Linked DNA regions of Homo sapiens. The protein of the gene in region 2 purifies or fractionates together with the protein of the main gene of each other region. This does not show direct contact. Each region holds a gene or a part of one and is shown on either strand. Other genes may lie near its edges.

Region 1 (3,500 bases), on a different chromosome or scaffold from region 2:
CTTTGATATGCTGCGATCTCTGGGCAGCATCCATTGGATGCAGGACCTGCAGCCCACACATGTCACAAGAATCTCCGTGGAGATACACACAGTTCTCCCCGTATCGGCACTCTCCCACTGCAGCATAGGGGCACAGCTGCTTCTTTGTCTCCACGGCGGTTTGCTCTTTCTCTGATTCTTCCTTGGTCACTGAGCCCTGCAGGGGTGCTTCAGTGCAGGAAGGCGCAGCTGAAAATGTGTAAGAGGGTGGTAAAGGTCCAAATAGATAAGGCATGAACTATAAGAGAACTGAGAATCTAACCGCAAAAAATGAAAATAAAACTGCAATGAAATACCAAAACAGTCTACTGAACTAACTTCTTCACTTGAAAGAAAGGAATTTTTTCTACCGCTGTTATTTCCAAGATTAGACTTGTAAAAAAAAAAAATTGCTTCTTTATCTATGTCTTGGGTAACTGAAATTTAATTTCAAAAAGTACTCGAAAGGATTCAGTTTTTCAAAACATTCTGAATTCATTTCACTGGGATTAAAAATTTCCTTCACTCTATCTGTAAATCTTAGGTAATCCAAATTAAAGTACTGTACTAAGATTAAACTAAAAAAGGAATAGAAGCAGAAAGGGGAAAGTTGTCAAAACTAAGCAAATGGATGAACTGCTATCCAGCCCTCTAACTCTTATTTTCTTCTTCAGAATACTTACTACGGCCACAGTAGGGTTGCCCAGGAACAAACTCAATAGCATTCACCCAGTCCTCTGAACCTGCTCCTACAGTTGCAAAGTTTGAATTTCTTGACTCAGCTTCGCCTGTATTCATTTCAACAAGTGGTCCAACTATCGATGAGAGACTTGAGGAAGCAGCAAGGGATGACTTTGTAGTTAGCTCTGTAGCAGTTGCTTCTTCCTGTTTCAATGGTTTGCTATGTTCATATCTAAGAAAAAATTCAAAAGTAAGCAGTCGGCCAGTCGTGGTGGCTCAAGCCTGTAATCCCAACAGTTTGGGAAGCTGAGGTGGGTGGATCACCAGAGAGGTTGGGAGTTCGAGACCAGCCTGGCCAATGTGGTGAAAACCCGTCACTACCAAAAACGCAAAAATTAGCTGGGCATGGTGGCGCACCTGTAATCCCAACTACTCGGGAGGCTGAGGTAGGAGAATCACTTGAACCCAGGAGACAGAGGTTGTGGTGAGCCGAGATCATGCCACTGTACTCCAGCCTGGGCGACAGAGTGAGACTCCGTCTCAAAAAAAAAAAAAAAAAAAAAGTAAGCACTCACTGCCTAACTTCATATATACCTTTTTCTTTTCTTTTTTTTTTTTTTTTTGAGATGGAGTCTTGCTCTGTCATCCAGGCTGGAGTGCAGTGGCGTGATCTCAGCTCACTGCAAACTCTGCCTCCTGGGTTCATGGGATTCTCCTGCCTCAGCCTCCCAAGTAGCTGGGATTACAGGCGCCAGCCACCAAGGCTGGCTAAGTTTTGTATCTTTAGTGGAGATGCCGTTTGGCCAGGCTGATCTCGAACTCCTGACCTCAGATGATCCACCCACCTCAGCCTCCCAAAGTGCTGGGGTTACAGGTGTGAGCCACCACGTACGGCCATATATTCCTAATACATTCCTTGGATTCTCTTTGAGCATCAATGTGCCTGTATTTGTGAGTGCAGAGAGAAGCCTATGATTCTGCATATTTAGTTATACCATGTGTGATGCCAAGACTGCTGGTCCAGAGACCATACTTTTGAGTAGGAAGGCAATAGACTGGGGGTCACCAAAGTTTAAAGCATCAAATACACAAATATTTTAGGCTTTGTAGGTCATACAATCAACATCACAACTACAAGTATTCAACTCTGAAACTGCAGTGCAAAAGCAGGTGTAGGCACTATTTAAAGGAATGTGTAACTGTTCCGATCAAACTTGATTTATGAAAACGGCCTTTGGCCAGATTTGGCCTGTAGGCCCATACCCCTGGCTATATACCACTTATTACTTCAAATTCCACTCTAATTAGGAGTTTCAGATAGTTGACAGTCTATAGTTCCCATGGTAACTCTGCCAGAAACCCTGCAGGCAAAACTGACTGATTTCAAAGCAAGGCTGACACAAGGTCAATAAGCAGACATGTGGAACATTTTACCAACACATCAAATAAAATGCTGTCACTATTAAAAGGTAGAGACAATATTTATACAATACACAATATGTACATTCTTTTTCTAAGAAAATCCATCCATTCACCATTTCCCCTTCCAAATTTTGCCCCTATGCATTCTCTCCTTTTCATCTGTAAACATTAAACCACCACCATCTCCAAATACGTGGGGAAAATACATCTATTTCCTTCAAGAACCTTCTTTCTGGCCTGGTGCGGTGGCTCACACCTGTCATCCCAACACTTTGGAAGTCCAAGGAGGCCAGATCACTTAAGGCCAGGAGTGTAAGACCAGCCTGGCGAAACCTGGTCTCTACTAAAAATAAAAAATTATCCGGGCATGGTGGCGCACACCTGTAATACCAGCTACTCAGGAGAGGCTGAGGCATAACAGTTGTTTAAACATGGGAGGTGGAGGGTGCAGTGAGCCAAGATCAGGCCACTGCATTCCAGCCTGGGCAACAGAGTGAGACTCTGTTTCAAAAAATAATAAAAAAAAAGCAAAGCATAGCAAGCATCTTTCTGCCTGAGAAAATTCTCACAGTTCCTGCTGGACGTGGTGGCTCAGGCCTGTAATCCCAGCACTTTGGGAGGGTGAGGCGGGTGGATCACCTGAGGTTGGGAGTTCGAGACCAGCCTGACCACCATGGAGAAACCCCGTCTCTACTAAAAATACAAAATTAGCCAGGCATGGTGGCGCATGCTTGTAATCCCAGCTACTTGGGAGGCAGAGGCAGGAGAATCACTTGAACCTGGGAGGCGGAGGTTGCAGTGAGCCTAGATGGTGCCATTGCACTCCAGCCTGGGCAACAAGAGCAAAACTCCATCTCGAAAGAAAAGAAAAGACAATTATCACAATTCTTTTAGCATTTTACACTAAGAAATTGACTGATTTTCAGAGACTCACTCTATCTCCTAGGCTGGAGTGCAGTAGCGTGACCTTAGCTCACTGCAGCCTCGACCTCCTGGGCTCAAGCAATCCGTCTGCCTTAGCCTCCTGAGTAGCTGGGACGACAGGTGTGTGCCACAATGCTGGTCTAACTTTTTTTATTTTTTGTAGAGACAAGGTTTCCCTATGTTGTCCAGGCTGGTCTCCAACTCCTGGGCTCAAGCAAGCCTCCTGCCTTAGCCTCCCAAAGTGATAGGCATGAGCCACCGTGCTCGGCACACCGAGTTTTATTCAGATGCTATGTATTAATTATGCATATAGTAAATTTAACTGTGCTACATAATTTATAGTTTGTTATCAAGTGGTTCTTATAATGAAACATTACTAACTTTGGGTCATCTGTGTTATAGGTGCCTATGTTTATACGCAAAAATAAAGTAAAATCTAACTAAAGGCTCTACTC
Region 2 (3,500 bases):
TTCGGGTTTGGAGAGACTCACGCCCAGCAGGGCCCGGGCGTCTTGGGTTCGGATCCAGACTGCTTTCTGAAGACACCTCAGTGCACCCAGGTCTGGTGCACCATTTCCTTTTACCAAAATAGCACAGAAAACTGCTCCCGTTGTGAGCACCCTCACTCCCACAGAAAGATGCATTTCTGCTCAGCCCCAGATGGGACGAGGGGCACCCTGTGGCCTCTGACCCTTTGGGATTGGCAGTCGCCTGCCCCACACGGAAGCAGAGGTGGACGCAACGGCCCTGCAGCAGCACCTGCCCCAGCCGGGCACAGGCTCCACTTCCGGCCAGGTGCGCTCACCTGGAGTAGTCGCTCTGCACCTCCAGGGTCCGGGTATCCAGCAGCAGGCCGCACCAGGGGAATAGGCCGTGGGCCGGCATCTGAACAAAAGCCGTGCCACCCAGGGCCTCGTCTTCTACAGGGAAGTTCACCACTGTCTTCCGCAAGTTCACCACGCAGCCATACTCAGGGACACCTCGGACCAGGGTCCTAAGGCAGAGGGGCAATGTCAGCCCCAGGATGCGGGGCCGTCACCCAGGAGGTAACCTGACACCCTTGTTAAATGCTTTGGAAAACCCCAGAGAAGTGGTGATTTGGAGCAGGGTGCTGGGCCTGGCAGGAGCTCTGAGGAGCCTGGACCCAGCCCTGCTCCAGACTTCGGGGTGCTTTCCCTGTCTCCCGGGCAGGACAGGTAGGTGAGCATGCAAGAACCTGGCCTGGACCCGGGACAGCCAGGACTCAGATGGGAGGTGCAGCCCCAGTGGCCTCTGTGATGGTCCATCTCATGTGTCCCCATGGCAACACCACAATCCCGTTATAGACTCATCTGTGGTCCGGGGCAGACTAAAATCTGGACAAGAAATTGCCACCATCCCACCTTCTTTTAAGACGTTTCTCAACGACTTTGCCTGTTTTCTCCTAGATGCCCTGAAGGCATCTGCTGTGCTTTAGACAAAGGGGAGGGTTCTGAGTTCCTGCTCAGGCGCGGGACCTGGCTGGGCTGTGAGCTGGGCAACACCAGTCGTCAGCTTCACGTCAAGGAGGTTCCCTCGCCGAGTCATGAGCCTCGCTCACCCAGCTCAGGGAGCCCCCCTGTGCCCGGTAGCCTCTGCTCTGGCCTGGGCATCCCCTTCCCTTCCTGCGGCCTCTGCTGTGGCCCCGGGCGTCCCCCTGCCCTTCCTGTGGCCTGGCCCTGGGACCTCGGCCAGCTGCGCAGCTCCCCTGGTGCATTCCCAGCTCCCTGTGGCCACCCCTTCCTGTTACATGGCTGCCGACTCATCAGAGACAGAGTTCTGCCCCCGGTGGGACCCCAACATACACTCTGAGCCACCTCCCTGGCCAGCACCCTCAGGAACTTGCCACACAGAAGCAGCGTTCCCCGTCTGCTCTGTCCCCTCAGCAGCCTCAGGACTCCTGAGCCCTCAGTTGCTTGGGACCTGGGCTCCCCCCGAGTGAATCTTAGTGGATTTAAATGTGCACAGCCTGCTGTGCTCCGGGCTGCGGCACAAGGAACGCCAGGCATACCCCCAGCCCAGGGCGGCCCTGGAGGGTGGACCTGGAGGGTGGACTTGGAGGGCGGGTCCAAATGGGTTTTCACAAACACAGCCCAGCAAAGCACCTGAAACCACCCCTGGCGGCCACATTTTCTGAGGGTTCCCTTTACAGCTTTCAAGGTTTCTCGTCCCTCGTCAAATCGCACTTTAAAACAAGCCCACCGGCTCTGTGGGGCGCCCTTGAGGGGGACCACATTGGACAATCCCCTGTGCTGAGGCCAGGTCCCCTGTGCCTGATTTTAGTTTGATTCACAAAAATCAACTCTGAAACCCACTCCTAGCCATCTCCGTGGTTCAAGACAGCAGCACTCAGCAAATCCAAATTCTCCCACCGATCCCAAACAACCCCACGCAGGAACGTGACCGCAGCGAACGCTGTGGGCCAGCTCACTCAGCAGCTCCTGCTCTCCGCAGGCTCAGGTGCACCCTGGGGAGGAGGCTGCCGCCTCGGCCCTGCAGGCCCTGTGCACAGCTCCTGGGGGTCTCACTGGGGCCCCAGGAGCCGCCACTCTTGACTTTCCAAAGAGCAGCAGGAGCCAGGTCACCGCCTGCACTCACCACGTGTGTAACCTGGGTGCGTCTCTGCAGGACCAGGGCCTGCACGGTACCCACTCCCTCCCGAAGGTGCCCCTGCGCCCCCAGGCCTGGGTGCACGGCCAAGCGCCTCTGCTCTTGCGGATCCAGCACCGGCAGAGAGAGAGGACTTGGCAGAGACAACGCTGCGGTGCCAGGGGCAGGACACGGGGGGCTCAACTGCAAAGCCCACAGGCTGTGGAGGTCCCCACAGACACACGGCACGGGCCTCACCTGAGGAAGGTTTTCGCGTGGGTGAGGTGAGGTGTCACCAACAAGAAATCATCCACCAAACGCAGGAGCAGCCTAAAATAAGGGAAAATACACAGCAAGGTTAACTTTACACTTTTTACGTAGTATCTGTCTACGAGGGACTGAATGTCAAACAATTTACACAGCCATAAATAAAGTAACATTCTCCAAAGCGGTTAAATGAAAAACTTAAATTTCTTTCCAACAGACGAGCTCTCTACAGTTAACTGCTACAGCAATTCCTCATTCATTATAAGTACTCAGTGTTTACCATCAGCTTGTGCAATTCTGTGCCAGCTGAAGACGAACGAAGGCCATCAGGCGCGGCCCCACTTCTCAGACTCTTAGGGAAAAATAACTGAAGACGGTAAGAAAGCTGGGGCTGGGAACCTCGCCCCCTCTGAGCCACGTGGTGCCCTTTACCAGCATGGCAGCTGTGGTCCTCAGCATGATCCGAGACCCAGATCCTATCCACAGGAAGCTGGGCATGGTGCACTGTGTGACCCTCAGGCCCAAGCCCAGCGCCCCATGACCATGGGCCAGAGGTATCCTGTCCCAGAGGGCTGACCAGTGTGCCGCCAGCTCGAGGACACTTTCCTCCAAATCCCAGAGCAAGTTGTGTGTACAAGAAATTTTTGTTTCTGTTACATAAACTTATTTCAATCTAGAACTTGAACCTTAATGAAGAAGAACCTTGATCCACTGTACATGCTATAATTGGAGCTAGAGTTTCAAAAGATGCACAGGAAAAACCCGGAGTCTTCGAGAGAAATGGCTGTGTGGCCTGCAGGCTTCCTGACGCATCCTTCACTAACTGTCTGCTTGTTCAGTGATACTATTTTCATAAAAAAATAACTGCTGTCCACATCCTCTCCAGCACCAGAACACTTTTACACTGTTGGTGGGAGTGTAAACTAGTTCAACCATTGTGGAAGACAGTGTGGTGATTCCTCAAGGATCTAGAACTAGAAATACCATTTGACCCAGCCATCCCATTACTGGGTATATACCCAAAGGATTATAAATCATGCTGCTATAAAGACACATGCACACGTATGTTTATTGCGGCACTATTCACAGTAGCAAA
Region 3 (3,500 bases), on a different chromosome or scaffold from region 2:
GCCTCCCAAAGTGCTGGGATTACAGGCGTGAGCCACCACGCCCGGCCTTTTTTTAATGGAGTCTCGCTCTGTTGCCCAGACTGGAGTACAGTGGGGCGATCTCGGCTCACTGCAACCTCTGCCTCCCTGAATCAAGTGATTCTCCTGCCTCAGCTTCTTGAGTAACTGGGATTACAGGTGTGTGCCACCATGCCCGGCTAATTTTTTTGTATTTTTAGTACAGTTGGGGTTTCCCATGTTGGCCAGGCTGGTTTCAAACTCCTGACTTCAAGCGATCCACCCACCTTGACCTCCCAAAGTGCTAGGGTTCAGGCATGAGCCACTGCACCTGGCCTGATTTTTATTTTTTTATATTTTTATTTTGAGACAGGGTCTCGCTCTGTCACCCAGGCTGGAGTGCAGTGGCATGATCAAGGCTCACTGCAGCCTCAGCCTCCCGGGCCGAAGCAATCCTCCCACCTTAGCCTCCTGAGTAGCTGGGATGACAGGCACTCACCACCATGCCCAGTTGTTTTTTTTTTGTTTGTTTGTTTGTTTGTTTTTTGAGACGGAGTTTTGCTCTGTCGCCCAGGCTGGAGTGCAGTGGCGCAATCTCGGCTCACTGCAAGCTCTGCCTCCTGGGTTCACGCCATTCTCCTACCTCAGCCTCCCGAGTAGCTGGGACTACAGGTTGTGCCACTACGCCTGGCTAATTTTTTGTATTTTTAGTAGAGACGGGGTTTCACCGCGTTAGCTAGGATGGTCTCAATCTCCTGACCTGATCTGCCTGCCTCGGCCTCCCAAAGTGCTGGAATTACAGACGTGAGCCACCGCGCCTGGCTTTTTTTTTTTTTTTTTGTAGAGATGGGGATCTCCCTATGTTGCCAAGACTGGTCTCGAAGTCCTCCTGCCTCAGCACCCCTCTCCAAGTAGCTGGAACTACAGGCATGCACCACCATGCCCAGCCAATTTTTAATTTTTTTGTAGAGATGAGGTCTCGTTAAGTTGCCCGGGCTGCCACCTTGTCCTCCCACAGTGCTAGGATCACTGGTGTAAGCCACTGGGCCTGATTTTTGTTTTTTTTTTTTTTCTTTTTTTTTTTTTTTTTTTTTTGAGACTCTATCGCCCGGGCTGGAGTGCCATGGTGCGATCTTGGCTCACTGCAACCTCCACCTCCCAGTTTCAAGTGATTCTCCTGCCTCAGTCTCCCAAGTAGCTGGGATTGCAGGCGCCCACCATGCCCAGCTAATTTGTTTGTATTTTTACTAGAGATGGGGTTTTGCCATGTTGGCCAGGCTGGTCTCGAACTCCTGACCTCAGGTGATCCGCCTGCCTTGGCCTCCCAAAGTGCTGGGGTTACAGGCGTGATCCACCATGTCTGGCTTGATTTTTTTTTTTTTTTTTTGGTAAGGTCTCTGGCTGGTGCTGTGTGAAGCACAGGCTGTGCAATGTAGAGGTGGAGACAGAGAGGCCAGCGGGGAACACATAGTGACCCATAGGTATGTATGGGGCAGGTATGTATGAGGCAGGTATGTACGGGGCAGGTATGGACGGGGCAGTATGTACGGGGCAGGTATGTACGGGGCAGGTATGTAGGGGGCAGGTATGTAGGGGGCAGGTATGGACGGGGCAGGTATGGACGGGGCAGGTATGGACGGGGCAGGTATGGACGGGGTAGGTATGGACGGGGTAGGTATGTAGGGGGCAGGTATGTAGGGGGCAGGTATGTAGGGGGCAGGTATGTAGGGGGCAGGTATGTAAGGGGCAGGTATGTAAGGGGCAGGTATGTAAGGGGCAGGTATGGACGGGGCAGGTATGGACAGGGCAGGTATGTAGGGGGCAGGTATGTAGGGAGCAGGTATGGACGGGGCAGGTATAGACAGAGCAGGTATGTAGGGGGCAGGTATGGACGGGGCAGGTATGTAGGGGGCAGGTATGGACGGGGCAGGTATGTAGGGGGCAGGTATGGACAGGGCAGGTATGTATGGGGTGGGTATGTATGGGGTGGGTATGTATGGGGCGGGTATGTATGGGGCAGGTATTTACAGAGCACCTCCTGCATACCAGGCTCTTGGTGGCAGCTGTGGCCCCGCCCAGGGCCTCTGCCTGCCTGGAGTCTGTCCAGGGAGATGAACACACACCAGTGACTGGCCCAGGCATGGTGTACAAGTGTGCGAGCAGCTGGGGGCAGTGTGGGGGCTGTGGGAAGCTCAGGGTCGGGGGCACTGCTCTAGGGCCTCGGGAAGCCTTCCCTGAGGACAAAGATGCCAAAGAGTGTTCCAGAATAAGCTGGAGGGTGCCGCCTGCCTGTCAGCCTACAGCAAGCCAGACCCATGTACAAACACGGATTCCTGTGCACACTTACGCTGGAAACCGAAGAGAGGTGACCAGCCCTCCACACAGCACACTTGGCTGGGGACCCGGCTCTTCAGGGCGTGCCAGGGTCTTAGTTGACTAGCCGGCGTGGCTGATGCCCCTGGCACCCCAGAAGGCACCGATGCCTTTCAGCAGCCATGCCTGGGGCTGCACGTGGCCAGCGAGGCTGGTCAGCCGCTCCTCTGGGTCTGTGCCGAGGCTCGGGTATTTTTAGGCTGACATTTGCCACAGCTCCTGGAAGCTGGGGTGAGGGAGCGTGGTCCTAGGGACTGACCGACAGCGGAGGGCCGGGGGCTGACCTGAGTGTGGACAATGACCCGAATGACCTTGCAGTACTTCTTCATGGCGGCGAAGTCCTTCTGTAGCTGCTTTTTCCCGTCTGTGTCCCGCCACCTCTTGCAGGCCTTGGTGAAGGCTTTCTTCTTGCTCTTGTGCCTGAGCCATGCACAGGAGGGTGCTCAGAAGCCCCCAACCGGGGCAGCTCCCCAGGCCTATCCTGCCCCCACCTCACCCCCAGCCCACCAAGCAGGGGTCCTACCTCTGGGACCGCCCCCCACCCGGAGGCCTCTGAGCTGGTTCCAGCCACCATCTTTGAACATAGACTGTCTCTCCCCCTCTAGGCCCCGGTTTCCTCCTCTGTAAAGTAGGTACCCTCCCTGTTTCCCGGGGCCTGAGAGTGAGTGGCAGAGGTGCAGAAGCTCAGAGAAGGCGGCTGGCCAGCCCTGCAGTCCAGGCACCTAGAGACCACCCCACCTGCCACATGGCTCAGACTGCTGGTCCCACTTCTCAAGGGTGCAGTGGGTGCCATGGCCAGGCACCTCGGGCTTGGGAGCCATCCTTTCTTTTTTGTTTTTGGAGATAGGGTCTCACTTTCTCTCCCAGGCTGGAGTGCAGTGGCACAAACACAGCTCACTGCAGCCTGGAGCTCCCAGACTCAAGCAATCCTCCCACCTCACCCCCCATGTAGCTGAGACCACAGGCATGCGCCACCGTGCCCGGCTAATTTTTTGTATTTTTTTGTAGAGACGGGTTTCGTCATGTTGCCCAGGCTGGTCTCGAAGCCCTGAGCTCAAACGGTCTGCCTGCCTTAGCCTCCCAAAGTGCTGGAATTATAGGAATGAACCATTGTGCCCAGCCAGAAGCCA
Region 4 (3,500 bases), on a different chromosome or scaffold from region 2:
GAGATTTTAGTTTTGGAAATATTTTGTGGGTCCCTCTACTTCACAAAAGAAGTCTGAAACAAACACTCTCATCTCCTTCTGGAGCTAGGATTCCCTCTATGACAACATCTATTTCTAGATGCCTTGAGACCCACCAAACATGGTAGTCTAGCAAAGCTAGCTTGAATGAGAGACCCACATTTTCAGTGCCTTCATCATCAAATACCAAAAATGGTATTCTGTGGATACCTATCCCAAATAGCTACCATGGAGCAGATTGTCTTTGTTCTTTGGGATATGTACCTATATTTGTGATATTGTACCTTGAACTCTTCCAAGTGTTTCCATTGGTATCCCCAGAATAGTCCTGTGAAGGTGGAAATGGGTGCAGTCTTTCTGAAGGCTAATCTGACAGAGCACTGTTAGAAATTTACCATATGGACATGTCCACCATACCTCCCTCAAATTCTACCAAGATACATTGAAATAGGTTCACAGCAGCTTTGTTTATACTAGCAAAAAAAGCAGCAAACTTCAGCCCTCATCATATGAGACTGATTAAATAAATTATAGTATACCATACGATGGAAAATTTTCAGGTATTTAAAAGAATTAGGCAGGTATGTATGAGGCTTTACCTATAAATATCCCACATATGTGAGTAAACAGCCAAGTGGAGAATATGGACATGTATAAAGATCCCTTTGGGATAACTACATAAAGAATTCAAGTATGTACGTGTGTATATATACTTACTTGAATTCTTTATATTCTATAGAGAGACTTTTATAGAATATGTAGAATCACACACACACACATACACACAGAGAGAGAGAAATGGATGTACTTGCAGGTATGGACATAAACATTTTTTTTCCTGGAAATAATTAGTTATAGGGAAAGAGACTAGGAATGGGGGAAAGGAAGCATTCAAAAGTGTTTTCTTTTTACTTTCCATTTTGTACCTTTATGTTAAAAATATGATTGAACTATTTGAATTTTCTTTTTAAGTCAATGGAGTTATCTACATGGTAAAATTATTGGCCTTTAAACTCTTTACATTTATTTATATTTTTAATGTAAAAGTTCTATTAAATGATTGCCCAACACCTCCACAAGTAGAAAACACTTCCCCTCATTATCCTTGGTCAGCCATTGGGAGACAGGTGAAGGATCCAGCCCCACTGTCCTCCATGAGACCTCGGTCCCTCTTGTTGCCTGTTTAGCGTGACTACATCATTTATCTTCCAAAAGAAGACAGGTTGGCAAGTGAAAGGGGTCGCTGACTAGACAGAACCACACAGAACAGGCATAAACCGGGAATGTTCTGGGCACTCTGGGATGTTTGTGTTGTCTGTAGGTTGGTGATAGTCTTACCACCTATACAAAGATCTCCTTGTGATTACTCACTGGTGTCTATTTCATTTGCTTTGGTTTTAGCAAAATCAGTCAAGGTGAAAATTAAGCTCAATAAAAAAGATGACAAAGGCCGGGACAAAGGGAAAGGCAAGAAAAGGCCAAATCGAGGAAAAGCCAAACCTGTAGTGAGCGATTTTGACAGCGATGAGGAGCAGGATGAACGTGTAAGTGTAGCCGACTGGGACTGAAGGCGGAGACGCCCTCTCCCCTGCTTGCTGGCCTCTTGCATTTCCATGCCCCTTCAGCCTTTTCGCTTTATTACCCAGGACTGGAAATGTCAGGATTTAGTGAGATTTCATTATTGAGGGATGTGAACGGAGCTGTATGATTTAGAACAAAGGATTGGGGGCTTTGTTTATTGCCTTTTTAATAGTCTTCAAAAATGAAAAACTACCAAATCAAGCTTCCCTTTCCCCCTTTTTAATCTTCCCACATGCTTTCTTATAAATATGGTTTTCCCCGTAGCCAGTTAATATTTTACATGCATCACAGCCAGCATGGTGCCTGGTACATAACAGTAGATTAGATGGAAGAATGAGAAAAACTGTTATGACGTCAGAGTTATTGGCTCGAGTTGCTACTTAAGGGACCATGTAAAAACTCAAAGGACTTTTTAAGTACCTAGGGGTGTTATTTTTCATATTTGAAAAATTCAGTGAGCATCTATTGAGCCAGGCCTTGTAATAGGTACCTCCCTGTGTGGTAGCATATTAAATACTGATGTCGGCATCGTGAGATAGATGTCACTCTCAAATAACATGTTATGGAAATGGTTAGGTTATGGGTGTTTTGCTACAGATCACGTCGCAGAGGTGGAATTCGGACCCGAGTAGCATAACTCAGTCTAGTGTGCTATGTCTGACTGGGCAGCAAGGTAGAAGAGTGGGCAGAAGCTCCTAATACCTTGCCTTTTGAAATACCCTTCATTTCATCCATTCACTTTCCAGAGGATGGTTTCCTGGCACCCACATTATTTTCTTTCTGGAAAGATAAATTTCCCTTTTCCTAGTTTGATTTTCCTTCAACACATTACCATTTTGGTAAAATTTCAGAATTATGATCTCACCCCAGCCTTAACCCTTGATGCAAGCATTTTCAAATACATTTTTCTTTAGGAGATGTCAAATGCAGGGTATTTTTTTTTCTCCCATGAATTTTCTAAAACCTGGGGCTGAAAAAGAGAAAATATTAGCCATAAACCTTTCAAGCCAAAGTGAAAGGGCACAAACAATAGCTTAGAGGGTGGGCTTTGCTTTGGGGTTTTTCAGTAAGAAAAACTTCTCAGCTTAGAGACTGTCGATGCCTCTTTAATGTGTTTCTGTCCTCCCACGGAAAGAGATTTGGCGAGTTGTTTCCAAAATGTCATTTTTTCCTACTGGCCTCTTGATGGTTTGTTGTTATATCTTCTTTTTCTTGCATGTGATGTTACTTCATTTTATCTTCTTATTTTTACTTTTAGGAACAGTCAGAAGGAAGTGGGACGGATGATGAGTGATCAGTATGGACCTTTTTCCTTGGTAGAACTGAATTCCTTCCTCCCCTGTCTCATTTCTACCCAGTGAGTTCATTTGTCATATAGGCACTGGGTTGTTTCTATATCATCATCGTCTATAAACTAGCTTTAGGATAGTGCCAGACAAACATATGATATCATGGTGTAAAAAACACACACATACACAAATATTTGTAACATATTGTGACCAAATGGGCCTCAAAGATTCAGATTGAAACAAACAAAAAGCTTTTGATGGAAAATATGTGGGTGGATAGTATATTTCTATGGGTGGGTCTAATTTGGTAACGGTTTGATTGTGCCTGGTTTTATCACCTGTTCAGATGAGAAGATTTTTGTCTTTTGTAGCACTGATAACCAGGAGAAGCCATTAAAAGCCACTGGTTATTTTATTTTTCATCAGGCAATTTTCGAGGTTTTTATTTGTTCGGTATTGTTTTTTTACACTGTGGTACATATAAGCAACTTTAATAGGTGATAAATGTACAGTAGTTAGATTTCACCTGCATATACATTTTTCCATTTTATGCTCTATGATCTGAACAAAAGCTTTTTGAATTGTATAAGATTTATGTCTACTGTAAACATT
Region 5 (3,500 bases), on a different chromosome or scaffold from region 2:
CTAGTTTCTTGTTTGTTTGTTTGAGACGGGGCCTCACTCTGTCACCCAGGCTGGAGTGCAGTGACATGATCTTGGCTAACTTCAACCTCTGCCTCCCAGGTTCAAGTGATTCCCCTGCCTCAGCCTCCCGAGTAGCTGGGACTAAAGGCATGCGCCACCATGCCTGGCTAATTTTTATATTTTTGATAGAGACAGGGTTTCACCATGTTTGCTAGGCTGGTCTCAAACTCCTGGCCTCAAGTGATCCACTCACCTTGGCCTCCCACAGTGCTGGGATTATAGGCGTGAGCCACCACGCCGGGCCTAATTCCCTAGTTTCTTAATTTCTCTGAGCCACCTTTCTTGCTATTGATCACTACCTCACAGCCTTACTCTGCTTTTCTAGCCCCTGACAGCTATCTAGGTCTTTTCTTTATCACAATCTAAGGTTGGCATCAGTCTTTATTCCCGTAGAATAGATGGGTTTATGGCTGAAGGTGACGGCTCTGCGGTGTGGAGTGTCAGGAGAGTTGCCAAGAGGGCTGCAAAGACACCAGACGAAGCCTGTGCTGAGCACAGTGGGAGGGGCCTGAGGCTGGTTTCCCCATGTGTTTGAAGGGTGATGTTTCTGAATCTAAAGTAGCTGATAACCAGTTGTCTTGCTCTTCTTCCAGAACTCCATCCGCCACAACCTTTCCCTGCACGACATGTTTGTCCGGGAGACGTCTGCCAATGGCAAGGTCTCCTTCTGGACCATTCACCCCAGTGCCAACCGCTACTTGACATTGGACCAGGTGTTTAAGGTGAATGCCCTGCTTTCCTCTAAATAGGGCCTAAGTTGGAGGTTGTCATAGCCATCTCAAAAGGAAACAAGTTCTGCTAGTGATGCTTTCATTTGATCAGGGGAGAGTTAGAAGCCAGCCACCCAATTAGTGACTTGCACAAAACCCAGTGAATTAAGTACACTTGACAAATACCAAATGACACATTTTTGTGCCAGACCAGAGCAAGGAGAAGGCTGTTCTGACCCAACAGAAAGGGCTCCCCAGGGCAGTGTTTTCCTAACTTCCCTGTGAATGGGAATTGCCTGGGACATTGTTAAAACACAGCTTCCCAGACCCCTCTCTTGGGGCTCTTGATTTAGTGCTTCTGGGATGGGCCCAGGAATTTGTATTTTTAGCAAGCATCTCAGGTGATTCTTACAAGAAATTCTGGGAATGCTTGCTCTAAAAAAAGCCCTTCCTGCTGGGTGTGGTGGCTCACGTCTGTAATCCCAGCACTTTGGGAGGCTGAGGCAGGTGGATCACCTAAGGTCGGGAGTTGGAGACCAGCCTGACCAACATGGAGAAACTCCGTCTCTACTAAAAATACAAAAATTAGCTGGGTGTGGTGGCGCATGCCTGTAATCCCAGCTACTTGGGAGGCTGAGGCAGGAGAATCCCTTGAACCCAGGAGGCGGTGGTTGTGGAGAGCTGAAATCGCACCATTGCACTCCAGCCTGGGCAATAAGAGTGAAAGTCTGTCTCAAAAAAAAAAAAAAAAAAAAAAAAAAGCCTGCCTTAGGCTGGAGACCAGAAGCTGAGCTACCAGAACGTCTTTTCAGAAAGAAGTTATTTTGGTTTTTCAGAGTGCCCATAAGGCTGCTGGTAGCTGTAACCATTCTCCTGGGAGGGGCAGTTGTCTGGGGTGTCTTTTGTCATCAGTCAGGAATAAGTGTTTTTCCCAATCCGGTCAAATTGACCACGTTGGTGGTAACTTCATCTCATTTCTCTCCCACAATGCCTGGCCGCCACCAGCCACTGGACCCAGGGTCTCCACAATTGCCCGAGCACTTGGAATCAGTAAGGTTCTTTCCCTCTGGCTCGGGGCTTGGCCTTGTTTTCCTTTCACTGCTCAGCATGGCTTTAGTGGACAGAGACAAGATGTGATGTGGGGAAGGGTCCCTATGGCCATGTTTTGTCTAGGTGCCAGCCCTAGACACAGAACACCCTGAGGGTCAGGCACACACCCACTTCCCTCCCCTTCCATGGGCATCACAAGGGCACACTGAGCAGAGCAGGGCACAGCAGGGGAGCATGCTGCAGCAGCCACAAGCGCATGGCACCAGCCTCAGGGGCGGCAGTTCGTTCGCTCACTTTTGTGCCTAGCTTTTCTTTGCCACGCATATAGCTACCTGCTCTGGCATCCCCCAGGGGTGTTGAGGACACGTGGGTGAAGCGGTAGTGCCACTCTGCCATCATGTGTCTGTAGGCCACCCACCTGCCCACTCATCACAGTTTTGGAGACTGCTCGCCTACGTCCATCCCCTCAGGTTGGCCTCCTCTCTCTGGGCTGTCATTAACTCAAGCACACACCACCAGAGCAGCTGGTGGGGTTTTGCCATCCCCTCTTTACCTTATTGTGTTAACATAGGTTTCTTTCTCTCCCCATCTGCCACAAGCAGCAGCAGAAACGACCGAATCCAGAGCTCCGCCGGAACATGACCATCAAAACCGAACTCCCCCTGGGCGCACGTTAGTATGGGAGAGTGGGCCTTGGGCCTGGTCCTTGTTCTGGGGCCATATCTTTAGGGAACCAGACTCTGGGATTCTGTTCCCACCTCAAAGGGATCTGAGCCCAGAGAAGGAGAGCAAAGCTCCTGGGGCTGAGAAGGGGTGTACTCCAGTCCCCCTGCTCCTGATCTCTCGTGTTTCCTCCTAGGGCGGAAGATGAAGCCACTGCTACCACGGGTCAGCTCATACCTGGTACCTATCCAGTTCCCGGTGAACCAGTCACTGGTGTTGCAGCCCTCGGTGAAGGTGCCATTGCCCCTGGCGGCTTCCCTCATGAGCTCAGAGCTTGCCCGCCATAGCAAGCGAGTCCGCATTGCCCCCAAGGTGGGTGTCCTATTTTCCTCTGAAGAGAGATTCTGGCCAATTAAGAATGTTGGACCTTCAGCTTGCAAAGCACTCTGATAAGTGTTCCTTGAGAGCTTATAAATCTAGTTGGGTAGAAAAGGCATAAAAACATAGGGAAGTGTAATAGCATTAGAAGAGCTAAAAAGGTATTTGGATTACAATGTAAGTGGTGTCAGAAGGCCCATAAATACCTGATGAGCTTGTAAGAATTCAGACAAAAGTGATTGTGATAGATGGGCTAGGATTATTAAGGAAGATACACAAGGGAGGCAGGCCTTAGAAAGAGATGGATTTGGCCGGGCGCTGTGGCTTACACCTGTAATCCCAGCACTTTGGGAGGCCAAGGCAGGTGGATCATGAGGTCAGGAGTTTGAGACCAGCCTGGCCAACGTGGCGAAACCCCGTCTCTACTAAAAAATACAAAAATTAGCTGGGCTTGGTGGCACATGCCTGTAATCCCAGCTACTTGGGAGGCTGAGGCTGGAGAATCACATGAGCCCAGGAAGGGAAGTTGCAGTGAGCCGAGATCACTGCACTCCAGCCTGGGTGACAGAGCGAGACTCTGTCTCAAAAAAAAAAAAAGAAAAGAAAGAAGTGGATTTGAGGCTAGACGCTGTGGGTCTC
Region 6 (3,074 bases), on a different chromosome or scaffold from region 2:
TCCTATTAGCTTTCTCCCTCACATGGCTGGAGAATTGTAAGAATCCTACCACTCAGAACAAAGTAAGCGAGCTTAAAGAAACCCATGCCAAACTTTGTTTTTGTCCCGTAATTACCATAAAATCCCAATTATTAAGGCAGGAGTACTACACTTTACAGTTTAAAGCAGTGTTTCCTTCCAGCCCTGTTTATTCTATTCTCCTTTGGGTTTGAACTTCAAGGTCTACACTAGATACTTTCCAAGGCTGCTTCCTCTGTTGGTCAGATCAGACGCTGCTTTGTTAGCTGTGGTTGCTACAGAAGCTCTGTTTCAGTTCCAGAGCTCTGTGCTGATGGGGACAATGGAATATGATGCAATGATCACCAGTGATTCTCAGTCTCTCCTGAGACACCAGAAGGTAAGTCACAGTCTGAAGAGTCTCACTCAACCTTCTCAACACAATCTAGCTGAGAGACATGGGGAGAGGTGGAAGCACAATATTCAGTAGAGGAAAAACAAGATCTTGTTCTCTGACAGGTTTATTAGCTTTCATGTTAATGGATGTTTTTAAACCCTGCAACCCTCTGTCAACTTCTTTCCACATCAAGAGGCCATGAGATACAGTAATGGCCTCTTAAGAGTCATGCCACATAAAGATGATGACTTTGATGTCCTGGCCTGCCTCCTGTAACAATGTGAGGCTGTTTTGGGTACATGCTGTAATAACAACAGGACTATCACAGGAACAATGAAGCAGAGAAGCAGAAGGTGCCTACAAAGTTTTACCTAAATGTCTTGTTTGTCAGGATGGAGCTGATGCGCCCATACTGGCAGAACAATTAGCACAGAGTAGTTCTGAAAAGGAGGAAGAATTCACAAAGCATCAGTTATGGGTGCAGGGAAGTCGCCATCTGCCAATGGGCACCAGAGTGTCACTGTACTGGAAGGGGAAAAGGAGTGGGCTGGATGAGATCCAGGGGCCTCTCTGCCCATGTTCAAAGTCAGTAGCTGCTCTGCCTGCCGGCATCACAGTGTCAACACATTTTGTGTGTGTCTCACTCAGTCTCACACCCAAGAAAGTAAAAACAATTGATGTAGGAATAAGGGGAATGGATAAAGAATGGTACATGCTTATTCTAAAGCAGGAGAGCCTACAGATTGTTGTCAAAGCTCATGTCTATCTCTGTCCTCGAGGCCTCCACACCATCTCCCTCTCCCTCCTCCAGAATCCAAGGGATGAGCCCGTTTCCCTTTATGAGACGAGGTGGAGCAGTACCTCTAGTTTTTGGCTGCTCATGGCCTCAGAGTTGCTGTTTGGAAAGGAAAAAGAGCAGCAGAGGCAGCAAAGAAAAGTACTAGGGCAGCACCTTTAGGTTAGAAATAGATTCCACAGTTAAAAGCACAAGTATAATATGCATTAAACAGAGAAGGGCCTCAATAGAATGGTCACAATATGCAAGTGTGTCCCACTCATTTACAATATTAGGATTCCAGGAGCTGCCAGAAATAAGTCATCTCATTAACATACCTACCTGCAGTTCTGATGTCTGGCTATTAGTAAACAAGGCCTACGTTTGTTTCTCTAAAATTTAGAATCTTAAACTAAATCCTTTATTTCAAAAACAAACATAAAATAATTTCCCAGGCAGAGAAAAGGTTTGAGATGGAAGCGTTCTTGTTAGCAGTCCCTTCCTGCATAAATGGGGTTGGAGAGAGAGGAGAGAGGGAATGGCCAAGGGTATGGAAAGCTTTCACAATGCATGCCGAGTGTGAAGTGACACCCCCAGCAGATGGGGTTTATCATCTTTACTTAGTCACACAACATCAAGGACTGGTTAGTTCCAGGGAAGGGCTCCATTTCACTACCTGGGTCAGTTCTCTTCCCCCGCATGCTCCACAATGCAGTAGAACCAAACAACACATTCATTTACAATAGAATGTTTAAATAACACCTGTCCAATAACTGCCCTTACTTCTTTGTGCTGTCGGGAAAAGAAAAAACAGAAAGCAATAAAACCCAAACCCTTTGGCAAGCCAGCCGGTGCCTATTCTCCTGGGGCATTTTTAGTGGAACTTCGGCTGGGCCTTGCCCTCCTCCCAATATCAGTGAGGAAAGTGGCAGCGGGACAGGTTTGGTCATCTGCAGTGGAGTAGAAAGAGGAACCAAACACGATTCGGGCCACAGGTGGATTCTGGCACATTTTTAGATTGGATTGGTTAAAAATGTCATGTTGTACACAGGATGCAGGCAAAGGAGTTTTTTTTTGAGGGACATAATGCCTATAGGCAGCATGAACGGTCCGATCTACCCTTGGGGAGGAGCTCCCTGTGTAGGGACGGAGAAACTAGGGGGCCTCGAGGAAGGTGTTGGTTCGGAAGATGGAGGAGACAATCTTTCCGGTGGCATTGATGGTGCCTTCGCTGTCTGAGCTGGACTCGGAGTCGCTGCTCCCAGAGTAGGCACCCAGGCCTGGGAGGATGCCGATACATACTGCAGCAGAGGGGCAGTGGATGGAGGGGCCACTCAGGGAGGTGTTTCCGAGAGACTTGCAGGATGAGGGCTCTGCAATAAAAGGGGAAAGACTGTCACTTCATCACCCTTTTCCAAAGTTGGGGACTGACTTACCATGTGCCAGGCACTGTACCAAGGGATTTTCCCACAGAGGAGCCTTAGAACAATGCTATGCAGCCAATACTATCATCACCCTCGTTTTAGAGATGGGGAAACTGAAGGAGGAAGGGAGGCTCCAGGAGGTGAAAGGACTTCTGAAAGTAAAGGGGCAGAGCTGAGACTTGAATCAAGGTCTTTTTAACCCCAGAGCCTGACTACACTCTCTTGTTCCCCATCAAATCCGAGTTGGAGAACAAGCTACTCTGGAGTGTAGCCTAGAGTGCTTTGATTTCCCTGTGCTCACACAGCCGTGAGAATCTGAAAACAGATTAAGAGAGACACTGTGAGCAATATTAACAATTCCATTAAGTTCTCAGCGTATTACACCATTTCTTATTTACTGACCAATAAGCCAGCTAGCACAGATACAATTTTAAGGCCAAACATCAGCTACAAAATAACATTCTTTTCTTTTTAAACATTT
Region 7 (3,500 bases), on a different chromosome or scaffold from region 2:
AGGGGTCGTCCTGCTTTATGTTCAGTGTTCCATTCTTTATTTTCTTCTGCAGCTGTCGCATTCTTTTCTTCCGGTGACTGCAATCACACACCCCCAATCCCATGAGAGCCAGTTAACCAGAGCAGCTAAAGAGCTGGAACCAGGGGAAAGGCTCAGTGATCACCCACTTAGACTTTCAGAGCTAGTAGGGAACTTGAAAGTGTGAGGCCCACTTCAGGTGGAGGGCAGTGGAGAGGCATGAGAGGCATTAGAGTGCTTAAGGGCTTGGAGTAAGTGATAAGTCTATGTGTGAACTCTGCTATTTTGCCCTGTGACCTTGAGCAAATACTTTGCTTTAAAAGATGGGTAATAGGGTAGCTAACCCTCACATTTGGCCAAAGCCAGAGCTTGAAACCAAACCTGAGTGGCCTCATTATCTCAGTCATAAGCCAATGCTTCAACTACACTGTGCTGTTCCCCAGAGATCCTAGGAAAGACAAGGTGATGGCACGTTACTTTATTCATCCTTCCTAGAGGACTTCCTCCCCGAGAATGTGGGATTATGTCTTCAAGGGCAGGTCTTACATAAGACAATAATGATACAGGACACAGGGATCAGAATGGAATCTGGACATCTCTAAGGAATTCCTGAATTTTTTTGGTCTTAAAAACCCTGCATATCCAGTTGCTACTTACCTTTCCTTTACCAAAAGAGAGAATTAGAATGTTCTAGAATGGAGGATTACAGCTGATCAAAATTTTACCATAGTTCTCTAACTTAATAGCTAGAACAAAGGCCTTTCCTCCTGTGGGCCTCCACTTCCTCATCTATGAACCAAGGCAGTGGGTGAGTTTGTCTCCACTGTCCCTTCTGGCTCAGGCCTTAAGCCCGTGACTTACAAACAGGCATTAGCTTGAACACAATGCTCTGCCAGACTAAGACAGGGGTGGGGCAGAAGAGCTATAAGAGGTACAAAAGTAGATTTTTAGAAGTGAAGCCAGGTGGTTTAAATTCAAAAGGCAAATCTGCCCAGAAGACTTTGAACTGCCTAATTCCACACCCATCTCATATTTGCCAAATGAAAAATAGTGAAAACCAGAAGCCCTAAAAACTTAAAATTCTGGGATAGACAACAGGCCTTATTCTCAATCTGTATTAAAAATGCCTACCTCTCTAAATATGAGAGTATATACAACAGAATACCAATTATGGTTCAAAACTACATCCCTGTAAGATACACCTAGATGCTGACAATGCCTAGACAGTGAGATGTTTTTTATTTTCATCTTTGGGTTTTCTGCACTTTTCACATTTCATCAGTAAGGCTCTTATGATTGTCTGGTTTCCTTTAGGCAGAATCCCTTCACTTTAAGACCACAGGACAGGGGCAAGTTTAGCCTCTGGTACTAATTTAAATTAAAATAATTTTAGAGCCTGTTAACAACACATCCAACTCAATGTATACTGAGTACCTATGATAAACATGCTAAATCAGTTAAAAGTATGAAAATACAAAGATAAATAGAAGAGGGCTCCTAACTAAATAAGCTTATCACCTGAAAGTAAAAAAAAAAAAAAAAAAAAAAAAAGGGAAAGAAAAAAAAATGAACGTAAGTCACAGTATGTAAGTGACTTTACCCTAAAGCAAAAGCATCCATTGGCAAACATTATAGGAGAAGGACAAGTGCAGAGGAAGGTAGAGGAACCACCAGGTATGACTGGGGGGCTCAGGAAAAGTTTCACGGAGGAGGCAGGCCCTGAGAAACAGGATTTCAATAGGTGATACCGGGGAGGTGGAAGTGGCATTCCAAGCAGAGGAGACAGCATGAGCAAAGAAAAGGAGGGAGGTTAGTCACAGCATAAAGCAACCAGAGCTGGAGACAGGCTTTCAGAGTCAGATCGGAGATGAGCACATTTGGAAATTAGAAGAGGCTCAAGGACAGAATCGCACAAGCCAGCTAGGTTTAGAGTAAGGAGACGAGATCCAGAGAAAGAGAAGAGCTCCGGAAGGTGGTCTGAGTAAAGACACTGAAGCCAAAAAAGGAGACTATTTCTTAGGTGATGCCATGGTGGTTATCTGCCAAGGAACAGCACTACCCACCCCATCCAAACTTCTCCAAACACAAAGTTGTAGGTAGAACTTCCAACTTTGTATTATGCTATGACCAACCCCACCCTCCTCTGGCCAGGTGTGGGCATTTTTCCACCAGAATTTTGGGAAAAAGTCTGATTTCCACATGGCTGGGCCTGAAACAAGGAAAACGCAAGTGTTGTTTCTGCTAGGGGGACAACAGAAAACAGAAAGCTGGTCTGCAGTGAGAAAGTTGGTCTGCATAGAGCAGATACACTGAGATGACAAACTGAGCTGGGAGCATTAGTACTGTGACTCTAGATCACCCGTGAGCAGAGCTGAAATCTTATCCCCTTGGATTCCAGGAAATATCCCATATACCTCAATGAAATCCCTTTGTGCCAAATTGTATTTGTGTTGAAAGTATGTTATCTATGACTAAAAGTCTTGACTACCACAGCTTCAAATAGCCAACTGTCAAATACAGCAGTGAACTGGTAGAAGAAGAGGCAGAGCTCTGAAAAGGAGGAGAAAGAGAGAGAAAAGTTGACGCATTAGGCATCAAGCTGCTGGGGATGTCTAACTGCACAATTTGATCACAATTATAGAAGCAGAAACCAGACTGCAAAAGTGGCTACTAAGTGCAAAAGATTTCTGTTTTAAGGTATATGGCAATAAAAATCGGGGGAAATGCTAACCTGAGAGAGAAATCTGGGTATGTAAGTAATCAGCTTTTGATAATAGAAAAATCTGAGCATGTTTACAGGAAGGAGAAAGTTTCCAAAGGGTATTGGGTGGCCAGCAGAGGAAAGACAATACAGGTCCTGAAAGAGGTGAGGGAGGAGACACAGGGTACATAAAGGGGTTTTCCTTGGACATGGGATGAGGCATATACCCCCTCCATGAAAGAAGGGGAGAAAAAGAGAGAGAGTGAAAAGTGGAATAAATTTGAGGTAGGAAAGACAGTTTGAAGGAACTTGCAATGAGATGGGCTTAATCAGCCTAGAAAAGCAGGAAGGAAAACCATATGCAGAAGGCAAGGCATTGGATTGGTGACTTAAAAAGCATGAAAATGATTTGAAACTTATTTTCAGGAATGAAGAAAGGATATCAGCTCCATTTGTCCTCAGAGATAGCACCTCCACTAAAGACCCTTAAAAAATATGTGAAGGAATCATTTCCTGGCATTTAACTAATGAGCAGGAATTGTAAGTTGGATAAAACACATGAAGAGCCCAGCTTACCTGCTAAACCCCAGCTCTTTCTTATAACACCACAGCACTGAAGGCCGAGCCTTCACAGTTGCTTTGGATAACATGTGATGAAGTATTACCACCTGCCAAACAAAAAAGTCACAGAATTTCAGGCACAAAAGAGACTTTAGAGACCGCCAGGCTTAAGACCTCATTTGACGGATGTGGAAACTAAACTGAGGGCCAGGGAAGGGAA

What was found.
Region 1: the proteins of TERT (region 2) and MKRN1 purify together in Homo sapiens (affinity purification with western blotting; 2 studies listed by BioGRID). This does not show direct contact.
Region 3: the proteins of TERT (region 2) and RPL3L purify together in Homo sapiens (affinity purification with mass spectrometry, with the first as the bait; one large-scale study listed by BioGRID). This does not show direct contact.
Region 4: the proteins of TERT (region 2) and SMARCA2 purify together in Homo sapiens (co-immunoprecipitation; one study listed by IntAct). This does not show direct contact.
Region 5: the proteins of TERT (region 2) and FOXM1 purify together in Homo sapiens (affinity purification with western blotting; one study listed by BioGRID). This does not show direct contact.
Region 6: the proteins of TERT (region 2) and PSME3IP1 purify together in Homo sapiens (affinity purification with mass spectrometry; one large-scale study listed by BioGRID and IntAct). This does not show direct contact.
Region 7: the proteins of TERT (region 2) and NAT10 purify together in Homo sapiens (affinity purification with western blotting, with the first as the bait; one study listed by BioGRID). This does not show direct contact.

Annotation. Positions count from the first base shown.
Region 1 is NC_000007.14:140,459,006-140,462,505, forward strand, and holds part of MKRN1 (E3 ubiquitin-protein ligase makorin-1), read right to left. Parts: intron 932-3,500; coding exon 702-931; intron 229-701; coding exon 2-228; intron 1-1. UniProt on the Homo sapiens protein: E3 ubiquitin ligase catalyzing the covalent attachment of ubiquitin moieties onto substrate proteins. These substrates include FILIP1, p53/TP53, CDKN1A and TERT.
Region 2 is NC_000005.10:1,264,069-1,267,568, forward strand, and holds part of TERT (telomerase reverse transcriptase), read right to left. Parts: intron 2,468-3,500; coding exon 2,396-2,467; intron 525-2,395; coding exon 336-524; intron 1-335. UniProt on the Homo sapiens protein: Telomerase is a ribonucleoprotein enzyme essential for the replication of chromosome termini in most eukaryotes. Active in progenitor and cancer cells. Inactive, or very low activity, in normal somatic cells.
Region 3 is NC_000016.10:1,948,190-1,951,689, forward strand, and holds part of RPL3L (ribosomal protein uL3-like), read right to left. Parts: intron 2,791-3,500; coding exon 2,655-2,790; intron 1-2,654. UniProt on the Homo sapiens protein: Heart- and skeletal muscle-specific component of the ribosome, which regulates muscle function. Component of the large ribosomal subunit in striated muscle cells: replaces the RPL3 paralog in the ribosome in these cells.
Region 4 is NC_000009.12:2,189,847-2,193,346, forward strand, and holds part of SMARCA2 (SWI/SNF-related matrix-associated actin-dependent regulator of chromatin subfamily A member 2), read left to right. Parts: intron 1-1,419; coding exon 1,420-1,562; intron 1,563-2,857; coding exon 2,858-2,893; 3' UTR 2,894-3,500. UniProt on the Homo sapiens protein: ATPase involved in transcriptional activation and repression of select genes by chromatin remodeling (alteration of DNA-nucleosome topology).
Region 5 is NC_000012.12:2,863,675-2,867,174, reverse strand, and holds part of FOXM1 (forkhead box protein M1), read left to right. Parts: intron 1-653; coding exon 654-782; intron 783-1,775; coding exon 1,776-1,820; intron 1,821-2,229; coding exon of another isoform or gene 2,230-2,290; intron 2,291-2,419; coding exon of another isoform or gene 2,420-2,422; coding exon 2,423-2,492; intron 2,493-2,679; coding exon 2,680-2,855; intron 2,856-3,500. UniProt on the Homo sapiens protein: Transcription factor regulating the expression of cell cycle genes essential for DNA replication and mitosis. Plays a role in the control of cell proliferation. Also plays a role in DNA break repair, participating in the DNA damage checkpoint response.
Region 6 is NC_000016.10:57,151,966-57,155,039, forward strand, and holds the end of PSME3IP1 (PSME3-interacting protein), read right to left. Parts: intron 2,543-3,074; coding exon 2,325-2,542; 3' UTR 501-2,324; downstream 1-500. UniProt on the Homo sapiens protein: Promotes the association of the proteasome activator complex subunit PSME3 with the 20S proteasome and regulates its activity.
Region 7 is NC_000011.10:34,108,629-34,112,128, reverse strand, and holds part of NAT10 (RNA cytidine acetyltransferase), read right to left. Parts: intron 3,388-3,500; coding exon 3,296-3,387; intron 78-3,295; coding exon 1-77. UniProt on the Homo sapiens protein: RNA cytidine acetyltransferase that catalyzes the formation of N(4)-acetylcytidine (ac4C) modification on mRNAs, 18S rRNA and tRNAs.